Linked DNA regions of Homo sapiens. The protein of the gene in region 2 purifies or fractionates together with the protein of the main gene of each other region. This does not show direct contact. Each region holds a gene or a part of one and is shown on either strand. Other genes may lie near its edges.

Region 1 (5,458 bases), on a different chromosome or scaffold from region 2:
AAATAAAATGTTATATTTGAGTGCTATTTCTTTTGCAGCACCAAAACTTTATTTATAACATAAAGAAATATATTGCACTTAAAACAAGTTATGAAGAGATGTAATATTGGAAGAGATCTTTAAAATGTAAACAATGCTATTTTTTCTAGGGGGAACTAGGAGTGATTTTTTCCTTTTTTGTTTTTGAGATGGGGTTTTGCTCTGTCACCCTGGATGGAGTGCAGTGATGTGATCCCAGCTCACTGCAGTCTTGATCTCCCAGGTTCAAGCGAGTCTCCCACCTCAGCCCCCCAAGTAGCTGGGATTACAGGCAAGAGCCACCACACCCAGCCTCTTTCTTCCTTCTACTTTCTAATGTATCCATAATAAACATTTGATCATAGAATAACTTTCTATAGAAAGATATCTCTTATCTTAGGGGTGTCCAATCTTTTGGCTTCCCTGGGCCACGTTGGAAGAATTGTCTTGGGCCACACATAAAATATACTAATGATAGTGATGAGCTTAAAAAAAAAATCTCAAAAATAAAATTTAAGTTTACGAATTTGTGTTGGGCCACATTCAAAGCCGTCCTGGGCTGCAGGCTGGACAAGCTTCCCTTATCTAGTAGGTTGCTATGAAAAAAATAGAAACACATCTCTCATTCATTGCTAGGATACATCTAGGGGACAAAGGACAGAGAAGCAAGCAGGCAAAAACCCACCTTGAGCAGAAGATGGCACAGAGGAATGGCGGTGGGAATTCTCAGTCTGGTGAGCTGGACAATCCAAGCAGAGGGCAGGCTCTACGTCTCAGAAAGACAGCTTTTCTGTCTTATCTCCTATGAATAAGTTTCGAGCAGCCTGGGAGTTGAATGATCTCTTTGAACAGATGTTCCTGCTGCTTCCCCATCAACCTCCCTCATACACATGTACGCCATAAAGTTTAAATTTACTATCATGGTGGCCATAGACAATGTTAGGTAGCTCCATAAAGACAGACGGGGTGTTTCATTCTTAACTGTGATCTTAGTAACTAGCACAGTACTGGGCACTTAGTAAATATCTACTGATCTAAATAGTGTGGTTTGAGGCCTCTTGTTCCTGGCTAAAAATCCTTGGCAAGAGTCAATCTCCACTTTACAATAGAGGTAAAAATCTTACAATGGATATTCTTGACAAAGCTAGCATAGAGACAGCAATTTTACACAAGGTATTTTTCACCTGTTTAATAACAGTGGTTTTCCTACACCCATAGGGTGCCACCAAGGGAGGAGTGCACAGTTGCAGAAACAAATTAAGATACTGAAGACAACACTACTTACCATTTCCCGTATAGCTAACCACCAGTTCAACTGTACATGTATGTTCTTATGGGCAATCATGCCAGGGGTTAGGCAAAAACCTGTGTTCTGAACCAAAGAAGACTTAAAACTGCTCCCATAATTTGTGAATTTCTTGAAATTTTGCGGTTTTTTGAAAATTTTTTAACAACTGGTAATCAATTTATGAAAACAGTTGACTTAAGCATTTGCAATGGTGACTTCCATCTCAACTCCTGGCTCAATACTGATGGAAGTAATCTGCTTAACTATCTGAGGACTGCGCAAGTCAATGAGTCGCTTGTGGATTCTCATCTGGAAACGATCCCATGCCTTAGAACCTTCACCGTAAGTTTTTCTTGTAGTGATTCTCAAAGTCTTGGTAGGCATTCAAACTGGTCCTTTCACTGATTCTTTTCCTTTGCTCCTCAGATCAAGTCAGCACACACCTTATCCAGGGATTTTACGTTGCAACTCGTTAGAGTGATATGAATTCGGTGAATTGCCACCTCTGACTCCACGGGTGTTTTTCTGGTATGTTTAAAAGCCATGGCTGCTGCAAGGCTTCCTAGCCAGCTTCCTGACAGACTTGGTCCTCAGGCAACAGCAAAGAGCAGTGAGTCAGGAGCAGGAGCAGGTGGACCACAGCTCCGCACCACCTATGACTGTGTCTTCCTCAAAGAGAAAATGTCTTTTAATGTCGGAAAATATTTATACACTTAGAAAAATCCATACACAAAGAATAAAGCAACTCTCCCATTTGCTACTGACATCAGATCCCCAGTTTAGAGTCAACCACAGTAACACAGAACTCTTATACTAGCATGAACATATTTATTCACATACCTTTCTAAAACACGAATGGTAGATACTACATTTTGGTTTTCAAACATAGCTTGTTTTATTATAAACAAACATCATTCTCTGGAAATTAAAAGCTTTGATAATTTCAAATTATTTTTAACAATCAGTCACTAACGGAATGCAAAAGGCAATTTTATTATTATACATTAAAACGTAAATCACATTTGAGCACGAACACTAACAAATAGGCTCATTTGTCATCTTTATGCCGTTTCTCTTCACTGGTTTCTTCCATATACAAAATAAATTCTTCTTTGTCATAACCCATTAGATGGATATAGTCTTCACGGTTTGGAAAGAGCACTGGATTAACTAACAGTGATTTTGTTTTAGCATAAAATGTGGTAAATACATGTTTAGCATCTGGAATCTTCACATCATTCTGGTGAAACACTGTACTCGTTTCTGCAAGCATAGCATTGTAGGTAATGGCTTTATAAGTGTCTGTTGTGGCCTCATGGTACAATCGAATGACATAGCCTTTTGTAATAAAGTGAAGCAGCACTGGGGTGATCACCGTAAAGCTTCCCATGATGCCATAGAATATGATTTGAATAGGCAGAGGCACACTTTCAGAAATAGCATTATTTTGTGTAAAAATGTATGGCAGAAATGTAAGGCCAATCAGACTCGTAGAATAAGAGAAACATTTCACACCTAAATGGGAAAAAAAGAGAGAGGATCAATACTTTTAAATTTTATAAAAGAATCAATCTATCCCACTAATTCTTCCATTTTTCTTCTTACTGTATCAGCTCAAGACAACAAAATCAAACCATAAATACAGTGCTTATTATATTCTAAGCTCTGTTTTAAGGACTTTACATATTTTGACTTCAATGTCCCTGCTACTGACCATTAGAATGCACTGCCTCTCCAGGCAGGAAATCTGCTTTAGGGTTTAAGTGGCCCTACCTCAGTTCCACAATAAAGTAGTTAATATTACTTAAAGATCCTTACTAATATTGTACTACAAAAGTTGATTCAGATAGCAGATTATCAAACAAAACTCTCTATTAACAAGCACTCCAGTATATCTAACATAAAATATTCAAACATGGGAAATTCTATCAGGCTAAGTGCCCAGGATTAAAACAGCAAATCACCAGAGAAATAAAACCAGTGGTTAAAAAACATATCGGACGGCCAGGCGCATTGGCTCATGCCTGTAATCCCAGCACTTTGGGAGGCTGAGGCAGGTGGGTCATTTGAGGTTAGGAGTTCGAGACCAGCCTGGCCAACATGGTGAAACTCCCATCTCTACTAACAATACAAAAATTAGCTGGGCATGGTGGCAAGTGCTTGTAATCCCAGCTATTCAGGAGGCTGAGGCAGGAAAATCCTTGAACCCAGGAGGTAGAGGCTGCAGTGAGCCAAGACTGCACACTGCACTCCAGCTTGGGAGACAAAGCGAGACTCCATCTCAAAAAAAAAAAACAGAAACATATGGGAAAGGTATTCAATTTCTTTAGTAAGGAAAGACATTCAAGTTAAAACAATGAGATAAGCAGCCTGGCCAGCATGGCGAAATCCTGTCTCTACTAAAAATACAAAAATTAGCCAGGCTTGGTGGCATGCACCTATAATCCCAGCTACTGGGGGTGCTGAGGCAGGAGAATTGCTTGAACCTGGGAGGTGGAGGTTGCAGTGAGCCCAGATTGTGCCACTGCACTCCAGCCTGGGCAACAAGAGCAAAACTCCGTCTCAATAAATAAATAATAAAAAATACAAAAAAAACACTGAGATACCATTTTTACCTATTACCTTAGAAAGATTAAAAATAAATGACTTCTAGCAGAGTGCAGTGGCTCATGCCTGTAATCTCAGCACTTTGGAAGGTGTAGGCAGAAGGACTGCTTGAGACCAGTTTGAGACCAGCCTAGGCACCATAGGAAGACCTGTCTCTACAAAAAAAATTTTTTTTAATTAGCCAAGGCTGGTCTGATGGTAATGAGTTATCAGAACTTAACACTGGCATCACTAAAGTTGGTATACAATGTCCCCACTGCTAAATTTGACTAGCTTAAAAAAAAAAAAATCAGCCAGGTGTAGTGGCACATGTCTGTAGTCCTAGCTATTTGGGAGGCTGAGGTGGGAGGATCACTCGAGCCCACAAGTTTGAAGTTGCAGTGAACTATGATCACACCACTGCACTCCAGCCTAGATGACAGAGACCCTGTCTCTAAAAAATAAAAATTATTTTTAAAAAATGGCTTCTAAACTGTATACTTCAAAATGATTAAAGTGAAAAATTTTATGTTTATCTAACCACAATAAAAAATGACTTAAAATGTAAATTTACCTTACCTTTAATTTATAATTTTAATACGATCCTAATAAAAAATACCATCTGTTTGGAAAATAAAGTTGAGATCCTAAACAAGTTGATTATAAAGTTTATTTGGAAAAACAAAAGCAGCAAAAAATAAAAAAATAAAGCAATGAGGGGAAGTTACCCCTTCGAAATATTAAAACATAATAGAGGCCGGGCGTGGTGGCTCACGCCTGTAATCCCAATACTTTGGGAGGCCGAGGTGGGTGGGTTACTTGAAGTGAGGAGTTCAAGACCAGCCTGACCAACATGGTGAAACCCTGTCTCTACTAAAAATACAAAAATTGGCCAAGTGTGGTGGTGCATACCTGTAATCCCAGCAGGAGGCTGAGCCAGGAGAATCGCTTGAACATGGGAGGCGAAGAGTATGGTGAACCAAGATCATGCCACTGCACTCCAGCCTGGACAACAGAGTGAGACTCTGTCTCAAATAAAAATCTAAAAATGCAAAGGTCTCTACATCTTATCAACACACCTCAAGAAAAAAAAATGAAAATCTAATTTTCCTTACGTCTTGTAATTAAGGGATGCCATAACAACAAGTAAGATATGGTAAGGATATTTTTACAATTAAAAGAGAAAAAAACAAAGTAAGTACACCCACCTCCAATTACTTACCAAACACTGCTCGGGCCATATTGCCAGTATAAATTAGCCTTCCATCTTCTGATTTGTCAGATGGCGTATTTAAGAATCGAACATATCCTTCCCAATAAACAGGGATCTATTGAAACAGGGATCATTATGGTCAACTAACCTTCTTAAATTTTTTTAAGTTTTTTTTTTTGAGACAGAGTCTTGCTCTGTCTCCCAGACTGGAGGGCAGTGGTGCGATCTCAGCTCACCATTGCAACCTCTGCTTCCCGGGTTCAAGCAATTCTCCTGCCTCAGTCTCCTGAGTAGCTGGGATTACAGGTGCCCACCACCACACCCGGCTAATTTCTGTATTTTTATTAGAGACG
Region 2 (4,871 bases):
CCATCCTTCATGCTTTGGCCTGTGCTGCCTGGAGGGGACTCAGCTTGTGACTTCTGCACACACCGATGACCATGCCCCTGCAGCCGGCCTGGTTCTTAGAACTTGCCTCTCAGGTTGGCATCAGTGAGGGACTGGCTTGGTTTGGTGATGAGATGGAAGTTGCTCATACCCTGGAAGCTCCTGTCTGGGGTGGCTGCTCTCTGATCTCGCCGTCTATTTGAGATAAGTAACTGAGTAGAGGCGTAACAGGTGTCCCCTCTAACTTGAGCAGGGAGCAGCAGGCCCAGGACAGTGTCCAAGAGCAGGTGGGCCTGGGAGCAGCTCAGGGCACTCTCTCCCCGGTCCCTGACAGAAGATGGAGGGAGAGGACACTCACCGTTTGGTTTACTTGCTCCGTACGCAATCAGCAAGCAGGAAACCGCGAAGCAGGCGCTAAAACCAAGCAGAAACGCAATGTTATTTACCATTATGACTTTATTCAGTGTTATTGTTTTGTTTTTGTTTTTGGTTTTTGGTTTTTCTTGAGACAGAGCCTTGCTCTGTCACCCGGGCTGGAGTGCAGTGGCGCGATCTCGGCTCACTGCAACCTCCGCCTCCCAGGTTCAAGCATTTCTCCTGCCTCAGCCTCCCAAGTAGCTGGGATATTACAGGCGCCCACCACCACGCGTGGCTAATTTTTTTATTTTTAGTGGAGACAGGGTTTCACCATGTTGGCCAGGCTGGTCTCGAACTCCTGGCCTCAGGTGACCCACCCAACTCTGCCTCCCAAAAAGCTGGGATTACCAGTGTAAGCCACCGTGCCCAGCCCATTTTCATTTATATTTTTGTATATGTATTATAAAGCACATTAAGAATGGCATAGGGGGCCGGGAGCCACTGCACTCCAGCTCCAGTTGCTTGGGCAACAACAGCAAAACTCCAACTCAAAAGGAAAAAAAAAAAAAAAAGAATGGCATAGGGGCCAGGCACGATGGCTCACGCCTGTAATCCCAGCACTTTGGGAGGCCGAGGCGGGCAGATCACAAGGTCAGGAGATCGAGACCATCCTGGCTAACACAGTGAAACCCCGTCTCTACTAAAAATACAAAAAATTAGCCGGGCGTGGTGGCAGGCGCCTGTGGTCCCAGCTACTCGGGAGGCTGAGGCAGGAGAATAGCGTGAACCCGGGAGGCGGAGCTCGCAGTGAGCCGAGATCGCGCCGCTGCACTCTAGCCTGGGCGACAGAGGGAGACTCCATCTCAATAAATAAATAAATAAATAAATAAATAAATAAATATGAAAAATATAAAAATTAGCTGGGTGTGGTGGCAGGCGCCTGTAATCCCAGCTACTCGGGAGGGTGAGACAGGAGAATTGCTTGAACTGGGGAGGCAGAGGTTGCCGTGAGCCGAGATCACGCCACTGCACTCCAGCCTGGGCGACACAGCAAGACTCCGTCTTGAAAAAAAAAAAAAAAAAAAGAGCACAGATATACATCATTTATAATTCCATGTGCTTATTATATTGGGGGTACGTGTTGAAAATCTTTTTTCTGGTGGAGCTATAAGGTCAAACGGGCTGTGGAAACCAGTGTTGTTGGTTTTTTTTCTCATCAGATGGATACTGTGCCAGCTTCGTAACAAGGTTTGAGGGAAGCATGTCTCACACATGCGAGGGAAACCCCAATTATCATGCTTATGAACTACAAAGGGATGGGAAACACATGTTCTTAGTGACAAGCAGCTCCGGTCCCTGGGCGGCCTGGAGCCTGGAGCTTTTCTTATTCGGTACTGGAGCACGGCGAGGACCACAGTACCTGCTGATTCGGTGGCGGACGGGGTAGGAACTCCATTCTGGAGGGCCTTCAGGGAGCTCCACAGTACACCTGATATCAGGTACGACCAGGATACCCTTCTGTGGGGAACTCAGCCCAGGGGGTCCACCTGCCCACTCCCTGCCCCCTAAGGGACCCACACTGACCTGCCCAGCAGCCTGAGCTTCCTCGGGCCATACTTGTCCATGACGATACCCAGGGGCAGGGTGATGGCACTGAGCAGAAAGGAGCCCACAGTGAAGGCCAAATTTAGCATCTCGTCCTGGGCCTGGCAGCTGAGCCAGCCGTTCATCCAGCTCACCTCCTCGTGCCCCGGCTCTGCTGTGCCGCCCACTGTGCCATTGGTGACATTCTCTGTGTGAAGAGGGAAGGAAACCCTGACCTCAGGGTCATGACAGGGATTCCCAAAGATCAGAAGGGCAGGTGCCCATTCAGAGTCCCCCCACTGGGAATGCCAGGGCTGGCTGGCGGCCTCTCGAGGGCTCAGGCTACCCCGCAGCAGGCTTGGATGGCCATTTGGCCCAAGTCCCCTGGAGTGAAAATGTAGAGGTTCTTAACTTTTGTGGGGGCCATGGACCCTTTGAAAAATCCAATAAAGACCTCCCCAGAAAATGCACACCAAGGTTTATCCACAGTTTCAGGAGCTTTGTGTGTCCCTTGAAGAGCAACGAAGCCCAGGCTGAGAGTCCCATTCGAGAGCATCCGCCACCCTAGAACGGCAGACCTCAGGGCCCAGCCTTGGCTGTGGGGCCCCAGGCTGGTGAGAACCTTCTCACGGCAGCTATGTCCGTGGGGACAGACTGCAGCCAGTATGGAGGCAGAACCCAGACCACTTGGGAAGCACAAGCACTGGTCTCACCCCAATAGCCTGGTTCTCCTCTGTCCATGTGGGGAGACTGCGGCGCCTCCTTCAATGGGAAGTCCAGCTGCCTTCTCAAACATAGAACAGATGCCACCTTCTCCCCCTGATATTTTCTTTTTCTTTTTTTTTTTGAGGCGGAGTCTCACTCTGTTGCCCAGGCTGGAGTGCAGTAGCACGATCTCGGCTCACTGCAACCTCCGCCTCCCGGGTTCAAGCAATTCTCCTGCCTCAGCCTCCCGAGTAGCTGGGATTACAGGCACCTGCCACCGCGCCCGGCTAGTGTTTGTATTTTTAGTAAAGATGGGGTTTCATCATGTTGCCCAGGCTGGTCTCGAACTCCTGACCTCAGGTGATCCTCTCACCTCTGCCTCCCAAAGTGCTGGGATCACAGGCGTGAGCCGCCACACCCAGCCGATATGCACCTTTCTTATTTTCCTTGCCGGGGTCACAGTGGTGCCATCCCGTGGCCATGCCTAGACCTCGCTGGGTGCTGAGTCTGGTGTGTTTGCCACACCCAGCCCTTAATGGCCCCCTTCAAAGTCCACCCAGCACCAAAACAACACAGAAAGGAAGAGAAAAGTGCTGTGGCAGCTGAAGATGGGAGGGTGGAGGACGGGCTGGGAACGTGGCTGAGGAGCTCTCCTGGCCGGGACTGCTAGTTAAGAGATGCTGACTAATCCTGCAGAAAACAGGAGCCGACTTTGATTAGACATGAGGTCACGCTGGGAGAGTCAAGGAAACGCTCTTCTTCCGGTAACTGCCTGCCTTCCAATTGCAGCCCTCTGGCGCCAGGGCTGTAGCGCCGAGGTTTGCAAAAGCTTGCTCAGGCCTCTCGGGGTTCCTCCAAGGTTACTGGAAAGGATGCGCACAGGTGGACTCGTGCTTCATGCCAACGTGTGGCCAAGGAGCCCCGCCGGGGCCGTGTGGATGAAGAGCGTGGAACTGGAATCTGGTTTCTAGCTTCCAGTGTTTGATTCTCCACTTTCTACCTGCATGACCTTGCTCTAGCTCAGTTTCCTTGTCCATAACATGGACATCATATAATGATAAGATCCACCTCCTAGAGTGTGGGGGAAGATCAATGAGAAAAATTCAGAAAACCTTCTGGAGCTCACCCAGGCATAGAAAGCACTCAATAATGAATAGCTACAAGTTGCTGCTGTTCTCGTGGTTATCATGATCATTGCTGCTATTGGAGGCTCCGGCGGGGAATCACGGCACCATCAGCTGGCACAGAGCCGGATGCAGTGGCTGTGGGGAGCACAGTCCCGTCAGCGTGTGTGGAAGCGCAAAGACATGTCTAATCCCCCACTGGGCTGTGAGCCCCGAAGGGCAGGGCCTGCACTGTGGTCACTTCTGTGTCCCCAGTATCTCACCCAGGTCTTGGCCTACAATAGCTGTTTACTGAATAAATAAAAACAACAGGGCCAGGTGTGGCGGCTCATGCCTGTAATCCCAGCACTTTGGGAGGCAGAGGCGGGTGGATCGCCCGAGGTCAGGAGTTCAAGACCAGCCTGGCCAACATGGTGAAGCCCCGTCTCTACTAAAAATTCAAAAATTAGCCAGGCATGGTGGCGCATGCCTGTAATCCCAGCTACTCAGGAGGCTGAGGCAAGAGAATCATTGAACCCGGTAAACGGAGGCTGCAGTGAGCCAAGATCACACACCACTGCACTCCAGCCTGGGCAAATAGTTAGACTCTGTCTCAAAAAAAACAAAAAACAAACAAACAAACAAACAGAATCAGGCCGGGTACAGTGGCTCAGTCTGTAATCCCAGCCCTTCGGGAGGCCAAGGTGGGTGGATCACCTAAGGCCAGGAGTTCAAGACCAGCCTGGCCAATATGGTGAAACCCCATCTCTACTAAAAATACAAAAATTAGCCGGGCATGGTGGGCGTCTATAATCACAGCTACTCGGGAGGCTGAGACAGGAGAATTGCTTGAAGCCGGGAGGCGGAGGTTGTGGTAAGCTGAGATCACACCACTGCACTCCAGCCTGGGCAACAGAGTGAGACCCCGTCTCGAAAAACAAAACAGAACAAAACAAAACAAAAACAATGGCACCAGATCACAATGGCCAAAAAGATCGAGAGAGGAATCAACAGAACCACGTTGAATCGAGGGGGGATTTAAGGAGATCAGAGCCACGAGGTTAACCATGTGGAGCCACAGAAATACAACGTCACCAACCAGAT
Region 3 (4,869 bases), on a different chromosome or scaffold from region 2:
GTCCCAGCTGAGGCTGGAAGATGACTTGAGACCAGGAGGTCAAAGCTGCAGTGAGCTGTGATTGCACCACCGTACTCCAGCCTGGGTGACGGAGCAAGACTTGGTCTCAAAAAAAAAAAAAAAAAAAAAATTAGTTAAGAATGGCATCCAACCAGAACAACTACATAAATGTATGTGCAGAAGTGGAAATTAAGCTAGCTAGTGCTGATGTCAGGGGCTGCAGGATTTCCACTCAAGTACCTCCAACAGCAGAGAATGAATGAATGCACTGTTTTCGAGTATTGCCTACCACAAGCTTGAGCCCTCTTTCGAGTGTCATGGTTTACTACTGTTACATAGGTCTTTCTCCACCTTGTGTATACTTTGATCTTGGCTCACCACAACCTCCGCTTCCTGGGTTCAAGCGATTCTACTGCCTCAGCCTCCCAAGTAGCTGGCATTAGCTGCGCCTCCACACCCAGCTAATTTTTGTATTTTTAGCAAGGCGGAGTTTCACCATGTTGGCCAGGCTGGTCTCGAACTCCTGACCTCAAGATCTATCTGCCTTGGCCTCCCAAAGTGCTGGGATTACAGGCGTGTGCCACCGCGCCCGGCCCGTAAATTATTTTTTAAAGTCAAAAACAGTATAACCTATGTATCCCCTCACTGGTTCTTTTTCCCAGTTCTGTAATACCTTGAATTCACTTCAAAAGTGATTTCTTAGGCCAGGTGCGGTGGCTCATGCCTGTAATCGCAGCACTTTAGGAGGCCAAGGCGGGCAGATCAATTAAGGCCAGGAGTTTGAGACCAGCCTAGCCAACATGGTAAAACCCCATCTCTACTAAAAATAAAAAAATTATCTGGGTATGGTGGCACATGCCTGTAATCCCAGCTACTCAGGAGGCTGAGGCAGGAGAATCGCTTGGACTCAGGAGGCAGAGGTTGCAGTGAGCCGAGATTGCACCACTGCACTCCAGCCTGGGTGACAGAGTGAAACTCATCTCAAAAAAAAAAAAGTAATTTCTTAATTTCTCAAAGGGCAATTCTCTACATCTCAAGCAAGCCACAGATAAAAAAAAAAACAAGGCTGGGAACAGGAGCTCACAACCGTAATCCCAACACTTTGGGAGGCCCAGGTGAGTGGAACACTCGAGCCCAGGAATTCAAGACCAGCCTGGGCAACATGGCCAAACCTCATCTCTACAAAAAAAATACAAAAAATTAGCCAGATCTGATGGCACGTGCCTGTAGTCCCAGCTACACAGAGGCTAAGGTAGGCAGATCCCCTGAGCCCAGGAGGTCCAGGCTGCAGTGAGCCATGATCACACCACTGCACTCCAGCCTGGGTGACAGAGTGAGACCTGTATCAAAAAAAAAAAAAAAAAAAAGAGGGCCGGGCACAGTGGCTCACGCCTATAATCCCAACACTTTGGGAAGCCGAGACAGGCAGATCACAAGGTCAGGAGTTTGAGACCAGCCTGGCTAACACGGTGAAACCACATCTCTACTAAAAATACAAAAAATTAACCAGGCATGGTGGCATGTGCCTGTAGTCCCAGCTACTCAGGAGGCTGAGGCAGGAGAATCACTTGAACCTGGGAGGCAGATGTTGCAGTAAGCCGAGATCCCGCCACTGCACTCCAGCCTGGGCGACAAAACGAGACTCTATCTCAAAAAAAAAAAAGAAAAGAAAAGAAAAACAATACACACAAGCAGGGCTGATGCCATCAGAACTTGATCTGCCTGCTGAGTATGCAGCACCATGCCACCCACCTTCTATAAAGTGACTGGCCGTCTCTACGCAAATTCTATATATTTCCTTGGTTGTGTATTGCCTGTCTCTCCACTAGAATATATATTCTTTGAGGACAAGGACATGTTGTAGGTCCTATACTCTCAACATAGAACAATGCCTAGCACCTAACAGGTATTCAATATTGGGTGAATGAATGAATGGCTACTTAAAAACATTATGCACTGTAGATGGACTTAAGGTACCCACGGGAAAGGCATTTAAGGAACTGACCTAAGAATGATGTTGAGAAAGAAAGAAACCCCAAACTACCATGAGTTATAGAAACCAGAGCATATCCTGCTTAGCTTTCTTTTTTTTTTTTTTAGACAGTCTGGCTCTGTCCCCCAGGCTAGAGTGTAATGGCACGATCGTGGCTCACTGCAACCTCTGCCTCCCAGGTTCAAGTGATTCTCCTGCCTCAGGCTCACAAGTAGCTGGGATTACAGGCATGCACCACCACGCCGGCTAAATTTTTATATTTTTTGTAGAGACAGGGTTTTACCATGTTGGTCAGGCTGGTCTCAAACTCCTGACCTCAGGTGATCCACCAGCCTCAGCCTCCCAAAATTCTGGGATTAGAGGCATAAGCCACTGTGCCCAGCCCTGCTTAACTCATATTTGTCCTGTTCAATACCTGGTCATATGACATGTTTTGTTTTGTTTTGTTTTTCCCCTCAAGATGGAATCTTGTTCTGTCACCCAGGCTGGAGTGTAATGATGCGATCCTGGCCTCCAGTACCTAAAACTGTAAAGCAGCATAAAAATTAGCATGTGCTAGCCGGGCACAGTGGCTCATGCCTGCAATCCCAACACTTTGGGAGGCTGAGGCAGGCGGATCACGAGGTCAGGAGATCAAGACCATCCTGGCTAACACAGTGAAACCCCGTCTCTACTAAAAATACAAAAAATTAGCCAGGCACAGTGGCAGGCACCTGTAATCCCAGCTATTCGGGAGTCTGAGGCAGGAGAATCGCTTGAACCAGGGAGGCAGAGGTTGCAGTGAGCCGAGATGGTGCCACTGCACTCCAGCCCGGGCGACAGAGCAAAACTCCATCTCAAAAAAAAAAAAAAAAAAAATTAGCACATGCCGGCCAAGCTCGGTAGCTCACACCTGTAATCCCAGCACTTTGGGAGGCCGAGGCAGGTGGATCACCTGAGGTCAGGAGTTCGAGACCAGCCTGGCCAAGAGGGTGAAACCCCATCTCTACTAAAAATACAAAAATTAGCTGGGCGTGGTGGCAGGCATCTGTAATCCCAGCTACTCGGGAGCCTGAGGCAGGAGTATCGCTTGAACCCAAGAGGCAGAGGTTGCAGTGAGCCAATATCGAACCATTGCACTCCAGCCTAGGCAACAAGCGAAACTCCATCTCAAAAACAAAAAAACAAAAAAACTAAAAAACTAGAACATGCCAACAGCTTTAAAAATACAGATTGTACCTTTCAAAATTAGACTGGCTATTTTATGTTAGTCTTCCTGATTACCAAAGTGATACATATTCACACGCATTAAAAAAACTGTTTAAATATAGAAAAGCATAAGGACGAAAAAGAGGCACCTGAATTCTCACTACCCAAAACAGTGCTAGAATGTAAATTCTTGGAATATGGAACTTTTACTCTACTTCAGGCTGCTGGTTCACTGAAAACATGTCACTATTAAAGGCCATTTAAGTTTTCTGATCCTTTCTACAAGCTCTTGTACACATTATCTCAATTCATATACACAACACCAGCACAGCATAGAGATTAAGAGTGAAGACTCAAAGGCCAGACTGCCTGGGTGGCAACTCCAGCTATACCACTTACTATGTGGGTGAACTTGCCTTTTAAAACCTCTCTACACCGCCACCTTCTGCATCTGTTTAAAGAAGCTAAAAACAGTACCTACCAGAGTAAGTTGTCATAAGAATTCAAGGCATCTAACAGTATCTGGCAACACTAAAGAAGCATTTGCAAAATACACTTCAGAAGCAAAAATAAACCAACCTTTCAATATCCAAGCAAATAGTCTGCATAGTTTCTACAAAACATTTTGCCTAACAATGTTATAAACAGGCCTTGCTGTGAGGTAGAAAATGCTTACAAGAAATCATAATTCCTAAAGTTCATCAAGTTTAATTTAACCTAAATTAAAAGATCTTAGGTTAAATGGAAGGAAAAAAAATTACCTCATGAACTTGTCTAACACGTCCTCTACCCACATGTGCATACGGAGGGATTGAAATCCATAGCGCCAAACTAATTTAATCACGTTAATTATGAACCAGTTGCTCTCCTCAAATACCAGAGTCTCTCCATTATATATCCCCAGTAGGCCACCAGAGGCCTGAACAGCAGAGAGACCTGCAAAAACATAAAGCACAGCTAAGTCAGTGGTGTCTATGCTGATCAAATGAAAGAACGTAATCTGAGTGAATTTGGGGCTTCCCTCAGTTCTCAGGAGACACATAAAGGAGCTCTATCTTTGGAACAGTGTGAAACACTATACTTTCACTACACTGTCCAAAAGCAGATTTGCTAGGCGATGGGTCAGATGATCATGTAAATATTAATATATCAAAAGTAGATATATTTTTACCTGGCTATTTTTAGACTAAAAGTCTAAAAAAACTGGATAGTCAAAGGAAAAAAGCCAGAGTACCAACTGAATTCAATTTAAAAACAAAGATGTCAGACATGCATCTTCGTGGCATAATTTGTTCTGGGTATACCTTCGCCCTCGTGGAGGAAACGGAAGCAGAGGCAGCATCTACAGAGGATGTGGAAGGCAGCTGAGGCACTTCCATTCCTGTGAGAATCCTATTTTGCAAAACTGGATATTTCAGATAACTGGAAGGAGGCCAAAGTTACAAAATACTCCCTGCCGAAAGGGCCTCCAGAGGCCTGTCAGACTTTCCCCATGACCTATCCAGCTCCTCTGCTGTCAGGGCAGCAGTTGCACATCCCAAGTTCTAGGCACGTGTCTGCATCCACAGCTGTGTGACGGAGTTTGTTTTGTTGGTGGTGGTTTGTTTTGATAGGGTCTCACTTTGTTGCCCAGGCTGGAGTGCAGTGGCATGCAAGGCTCACTGCAGCTTCTATCTCCCAGGCTCAAG
Region 4 (4,869 bases), on a different chromosome or scaffold from region 2:
GAAGACACTCAACACAGGTCCCTATGCCCTTTGAGCAAACCTCCCCACTCCTGCACCCCCAGTCCTGCAGAGCTGAGACAGGCAGGTGGCTGAGGAAAGCAGGTGAAAGGTCAGCTTGATGCACCGTGCATTGCCAGGTTTCAAAACACGCCCAAGGAAAATGGAGATATGGGACTTGCCTCTGTAATATAAAACAAACAATAAAACTTGATACGTGACAACGGACTTCCAAGAAAATGGTCTTTATAGCAACTGAAATATGTAAATAATTTCTGAGTGGGGCAGAAGTCTTTCAACACAGCCTTGCAATCAACACGTATGGAGATACTAATAGATAGGTGTGTGGGAAGGTAGGTAGGTAAGACATAAAGATTCCTTTTTGTGCTTTTAATAATGAAGTTACAGCACATTCCTTTTTTTTTTTTTTGAGACGAAGTTTTGCTCCATCACCCAGGCTGGAGTGCAATGACATGATCTCGGCTCACAGCAACCTCTGCCTCCTGGGTTCAAGTGATTCTCCTGCCTCAGCCTTCCCAGGAGCTGGAATTACAGGCACGCACCACCACGCCTGGCTAATTTTGTATTTTTAGTAGAGATGGGTTTTTACCATGTTGACCAGGCTGGTCTCGAACTCCTGACCCCAAGCGATCCGTCTGCCTTGGCCTCCTAAAGTGCTGGGATTACAGGCATGAGCCACTGTGCCCGACCCAGAACATTCTTTTTACCAAACCCTTTGGCATATGCTAGACAATGTGACCCATATATATTTTTATATTGATGTATTTGACTAGCATTAGATCATTTAATTCCCACTAGCACCCTAGGAAATGGGTACTAGGGCTATCTCCATGTACTAATGAGAAAACCAGGGCTTAGATGTCAAGAAACTTGCCCAGTGTCACAGCCAGCAAATAGCAGGGCTGGAAATCAAACCCAGGCCCAGGCCAGGTGCGGTGGCTCACGCCTCTAATCCCAGCACTTTGGCAGGCCAAGGCGGACAGATCACCTGAGCTCAAGAGTTCGAGACCAGCCTGACCAATATGGTGAAACCCTGTCTCTACTAAAAATACAAAAAATTAGCTGGGCTTGGTGGCATGCACCCGTAGTCCCAGATACTAGGGAAACTGAGACAGGAGAATTTCTTGAACCTGGCAGGTGGAGGTTGCAGTGAGCCAAGATTGCACCACTGCACTCCAGCCTGGGTGACAGAGCGAGACTCTGTCTCAAAAACAAACAAACAAACAAACAAACAAACAAAAACCCAGGTCCAACTCCAAAACTTATACTCTTAACTCCCAAAGTAAAGTGGTAGGTACTACACAAAAAGTTCTACTTAGGATTCCTAAAGTTACAACACAGATATAAAATTAGGTCACTGTTGTAACCAAAATGATGAGATTGCAGCCAGCAATAAAACTCCAGTAAGTATAAACACCATCAGTGCCAACTGTAAAATTATTCACATGCTGCAGTCTTCCCACTAGCATTGCACAGTGCCCATGCACACAGGAGCAGGCTCTGCTTTCTATTCAAACCTAGCTAACAGCTGCCCATCTCCTCCAGCGGTAAACAACTATGTTGGAAATCCTCTGAGAAAATGTTACCCATGGGAAGCGACAGCTTAGCTCAGCAGGAATACCAGGCAGGGCCTCTAGGAACAGAGAAAGTGTGAGGCTGGATGACATGGGCCTCATCCCTGGAAAAACTGGAGAAGGCGCTGTAGGCAGGGTCAGAAGCAGTGTCTCTGGCGAAGGGCAGGGCAGTTATCTCATCATCTACAACACATTCTTGGATGCCCGGGTGACCAATGCCTGGGAAGATTCTGCTTCGCTAGAAAGCTAGTGCCAGCCTCCGGGACTGGCTCCAGCTCGGGGAAACCACCTTCACAACATGCATGATGTCCAAGGTGGCAAAAATCTGGCCTGGCCTCCTCACTGCTGCCCAAAGAACTTCAAGGGAAGTACCAGGAAGGCTCTGGAAGGACAGCAGCAGCCCAGGGGGTTCCCTAGAACTAGCACACATGTGCAGTAAAGTTCATGGCTCTTCTGAACTGAGATGCAGGCAAAAATTAGCAATAATGGGAAGGAAGAAAAGCAGCAGCTCCTCTTCTCCAGGCAAGTGTGGGTGTGCGCTCTCTGCACTGTATGAGCCACATCGTTATTCAATTGCAGATATGCACATCTGTAATGGTGCCCTTGTACTTTTCCAGTAAATGTGTATACACACAAACAGAAGTTGTTTCCCAAACTTGGCTGGGCGTGTTGGCTCACGCCTGTAATCCCAGCACTTTGGGAGGCCAAGGTGGGCGGATCACCTGAGGCCAGGAGTTCAAAACCAGCCTGGCCAACATGGTGAAACCCCATCTCTACTAAAAATACAAAACATTAGCTGGGTGTGGTGGTGGGCACCTGTAGCAGGAGAATTGCTTGAACCTGGTTGGTGGAGGTTGCAGTGAGCCAAGGTCCCACCACCGCACTCCAGCCTGGGCAACAAGAGCGAAACTCCATCTCAAAAAAGAAAAAAAAAAAGAAATTGTTTCCCAAACCTGATGGAAGCACCTTAGAAGTGAGAATGTAAGACTCACCTTATGTTTTTCGGAGGGTTTCATGTACAAGAAAGGTGAAGGATTTTCATTATTATTTTTTTTTTATAAGACAGGGTCTTGTTCTGTTGCCGAGCGTGACCTTGAACTCCTGGCTCAAGAGATCATCTTGCCTCAGCCTAAGCTGGGACTACAGGTGTGCTCCACTACACCCAGCCTGGAGCTTTCATTATGAAAGGTTGCGTCTTGAATTCATGACTGATCATTCAATATTCACATTATTTAAATTGGCCACACAGTGGATTTCCTGTACTGAAGTTTATCATAATGGACTATTCACATTTATGGGGTCAATATAATGGGTCGTCAGGTTATAAAAGGAATTCTGGGCTGGGCACGGTGGCTCATGCCTATAATCCCAGCACTTTGGGAGGCTGAGGCGTGTGGATCACCTGAGGTCAGGAGTTCAAGACCAGCCTGGCCAACGTGGCAAAACCTCATCTCTAGTAAAAATACAAAAATTAGCCAGGTGTGGTGGTGGGCACTTGTAATCCAGCTATTCGGGAGGCTGAGGCAGGAGAATCGCTTGAACCCGGGAGGCAGAGGTTGCAGTGAGCCGAGATCATGCCACTGCACCCCAGCCTGGGTGACAGAGGGAGACTTCGTCTCAAAAAATAAAAATAATAAAATAAAAGGAATTCTGGACTGGGTATGGTGGCTCATGCCTGTAATCCCAATACTTTGGCAGGCGAAGGCAGGAAGTTCGCTTGAGCCCAGGTATTTGAGACCAATCTGGGCAATGTAGCAAGACCCCATCTCTACAAAAAATACAAAAATTAGCCAAGGTGTGGGTAGTGCATGCCTGTGGTCCCAGCTACTTGCGAGTATCACTCGAGCCCAGGAGTTTGAGGTTATAGTGAGCTATGATCACGCCACTGCACTCTAGCCTGGATGACAGAGCGAGACCCTGTCTTACCAAGTACTGTAAAAATTAAGCCAATTCTGGGTGGATCACTTGAGGTCAGGAGTTTGAGACCAGCCTGGCCAACATGATGAAACCCTGTCTCTACTAACAAACAAAAACTACCTGGGCATGGTGGTGCATGCCTGTAATCTCAGCTACTCGGGAGGCTGAGGCAGGAGAATTGCTTGAACTGGGGAGGCGGAGGTTGCAGTGAGCCATGATTGCGCCACTGCACTCCAGCCCGGGCGATAGGGCGAGACTCCATCTCAAAAAAAAAAAAATTAAGCCAATTCAAATTTAGACCTTATAGTGCACCACGTCAATAAGTAATGGTTAGATAAATACAGACAAATATGATCTTAGAAAAAAAATTTGGAAAAGCCACAAAGATTCACAATTTTATAAAGAAGATAGCCAACGTATTGACAGACCCAGTTATCTGACCTAGCTATTCAGAAGCCCACCAGAAGTTTAACAGCTGCTACTTCTTTCCCACTGTGCCTGCCCTGCCTCTAGCCAGCATCGGCACTCGGGCAGGAGCTCAGACTGCAAGGAGGAGACCTGCACCTGCCCAAAGGACATCCTAAACCTCCTCTTCGTACCAGTATATTGTTCCCACAAATGTCCCTAAGACAACAGGAGCGGTGTCCCCTGTATCTCCCATGCATATTCTTCACCTTTGCACAGAATATAACAACTTGAACTTCTAATTCAAACTGAACTTGAACTGAACTTCTAATGTGGGGACTGCAAAATACATTGGTGTCCCTAAATGCCGCCTGCAGCCAGGACATTGTTTGCTAGAGCCTGTATTTACTTTACACACTCAAAACTCTCTTCACATCTGACCTCTGATTGGATCCTCACAAAACTCGTGTGACATGGAATGACAGGTTCAGACCCACCACCTTACAGATGAGGAAATGGAAACCCAGAAACCCTAGAGGCGGATTCAGTGCCACACCCAGTCTGCATGGGGTAGGGAGTGGGGGCCTCCAAAACCCAGGCCCTCTGGCTGCCCAGTGGTCTGGGAAGCAGCCTGGGAAAGGGAAAGAAAACACACAGATCTGGGTTCAAATCCCAGCTCTACCAATTACTCAGACCTGTGACCTTGAGCAAGTATTTGCCTCACATAAAGTATGCAGGATGCCCTTACCTCCTCCGGCAAACTGCAGGAGGACGTGGCAGCCAGCTCTGACACCTGTTAGGTCTTTACTGCAGGAACACGTTCTTTGTCCCTTTCCAACTGTAGCCCTGTGGTGCCAATGCAAACCCTCTAGGAATGTGGATTTCTCTTCCTACCTGTTGCACCCCCACCCCATGCCAAATCTCAATGCCAGCATTTGATACCTTCTGACTTCGA

The links. Proteins that work in one complex are often made in the same cells at the same time.
Region 1: the proteins of SLC43A2 (region 2) and TMEM70 purify together in Homo sapiens (affinity purification with mass spectrometry; one large-scale study listed by BioGRID and IntAct). This does not show direct contact.
Region 3: the proteins of SLC43A2 (region 2) and PCYOX1 purify together in Homo sapiens (affinity purification with mass spectrometry; one large-scale study listed by BioGRID and IntAct). This does not show direct contact.
Region 4: the proteins of SLC43A2 (region 2) and CPT1A purify together in Homo sapiens (affinity purification with mass spectrometry; one large-scale study listed by BioGRID and IntAct). This does not show direct contact.

The regions. Positions count from the first base shown.
Region 1 is NC_000008.11:73,978,518-73,983,975, reverse strand, and holds the end of TMEM70 (transmembrane protein 70, mitochondrial), read right to left. Parts: intron 5,221-5,458; coding exon 5,115-5,220; coding exon of another isoform or gene 5,107-5,114; exon of another isoform or gene 5,101-5,106; intron 4,898-5,100; exon of another isoform or gene 4,805-4,897; intron 2,822-4,804; coding exon 2,355-2,821; 3' UTR 1,193-2,354; downstream 1-1,192. UniProt on the Homo sapiens protein: Scaffold protein that participates in the c-ring assembly of mitochondrial ATP synthase (F(1)F(0) ATP synthase or complex V) by facilitating the membrane insertion and oligomer formation of the subunit c/ATP5MC1 through its interaction.
Region 2 is NC_000017.11:1,614,603-1,619,473, forward strand, and holds part of SLC43A2 (large neutral amino acids transporter small subunit 4), read right to left. Parts: intron 2,168-4,871; coding exon 1,960-2,167; intron 1,694-1,959; exon of another isoform or gene 1,590-1,693; intron 433-1,589; coding exon 377-432; intron 1-376.
Region 3 is NC_000002.12:70,260,460-70,265,328, reverse strand, and holds part of PCYOX1 (prenylcysteine oxidase 1 precursor), read right to left. Parts: intron 4,118-4,869; coding exon 3,943-4,117; intron 1-3,942. UniProt on the Homo sapiens protein: Prenylcysteine oxidase that cleaves the thioether bond of prenyl-L-cysteines, such as farnesylcysteine and geranylgeranylcysteine. Only active against free prenylcysteines and not prenylcysteine residues within prenylated proteins or peptides.
Region 4 is NC_000011.10:68,831,225-68,836,093, forward strand, and holds part of CPT1A (carnitine O-palmitoyltransferase 1, liver isoform), read right to left. Parts: intron 1-4,869. UniProt on the Homo sapiens protein: Catalyzes the transfer of the acyl group of long-chain fatty acid-CoA conjugates onto carnitine, an essential step for the mitochondrial uptake of long-chain fatty acids and their subsequent beta-oxidation in the mitochondrion.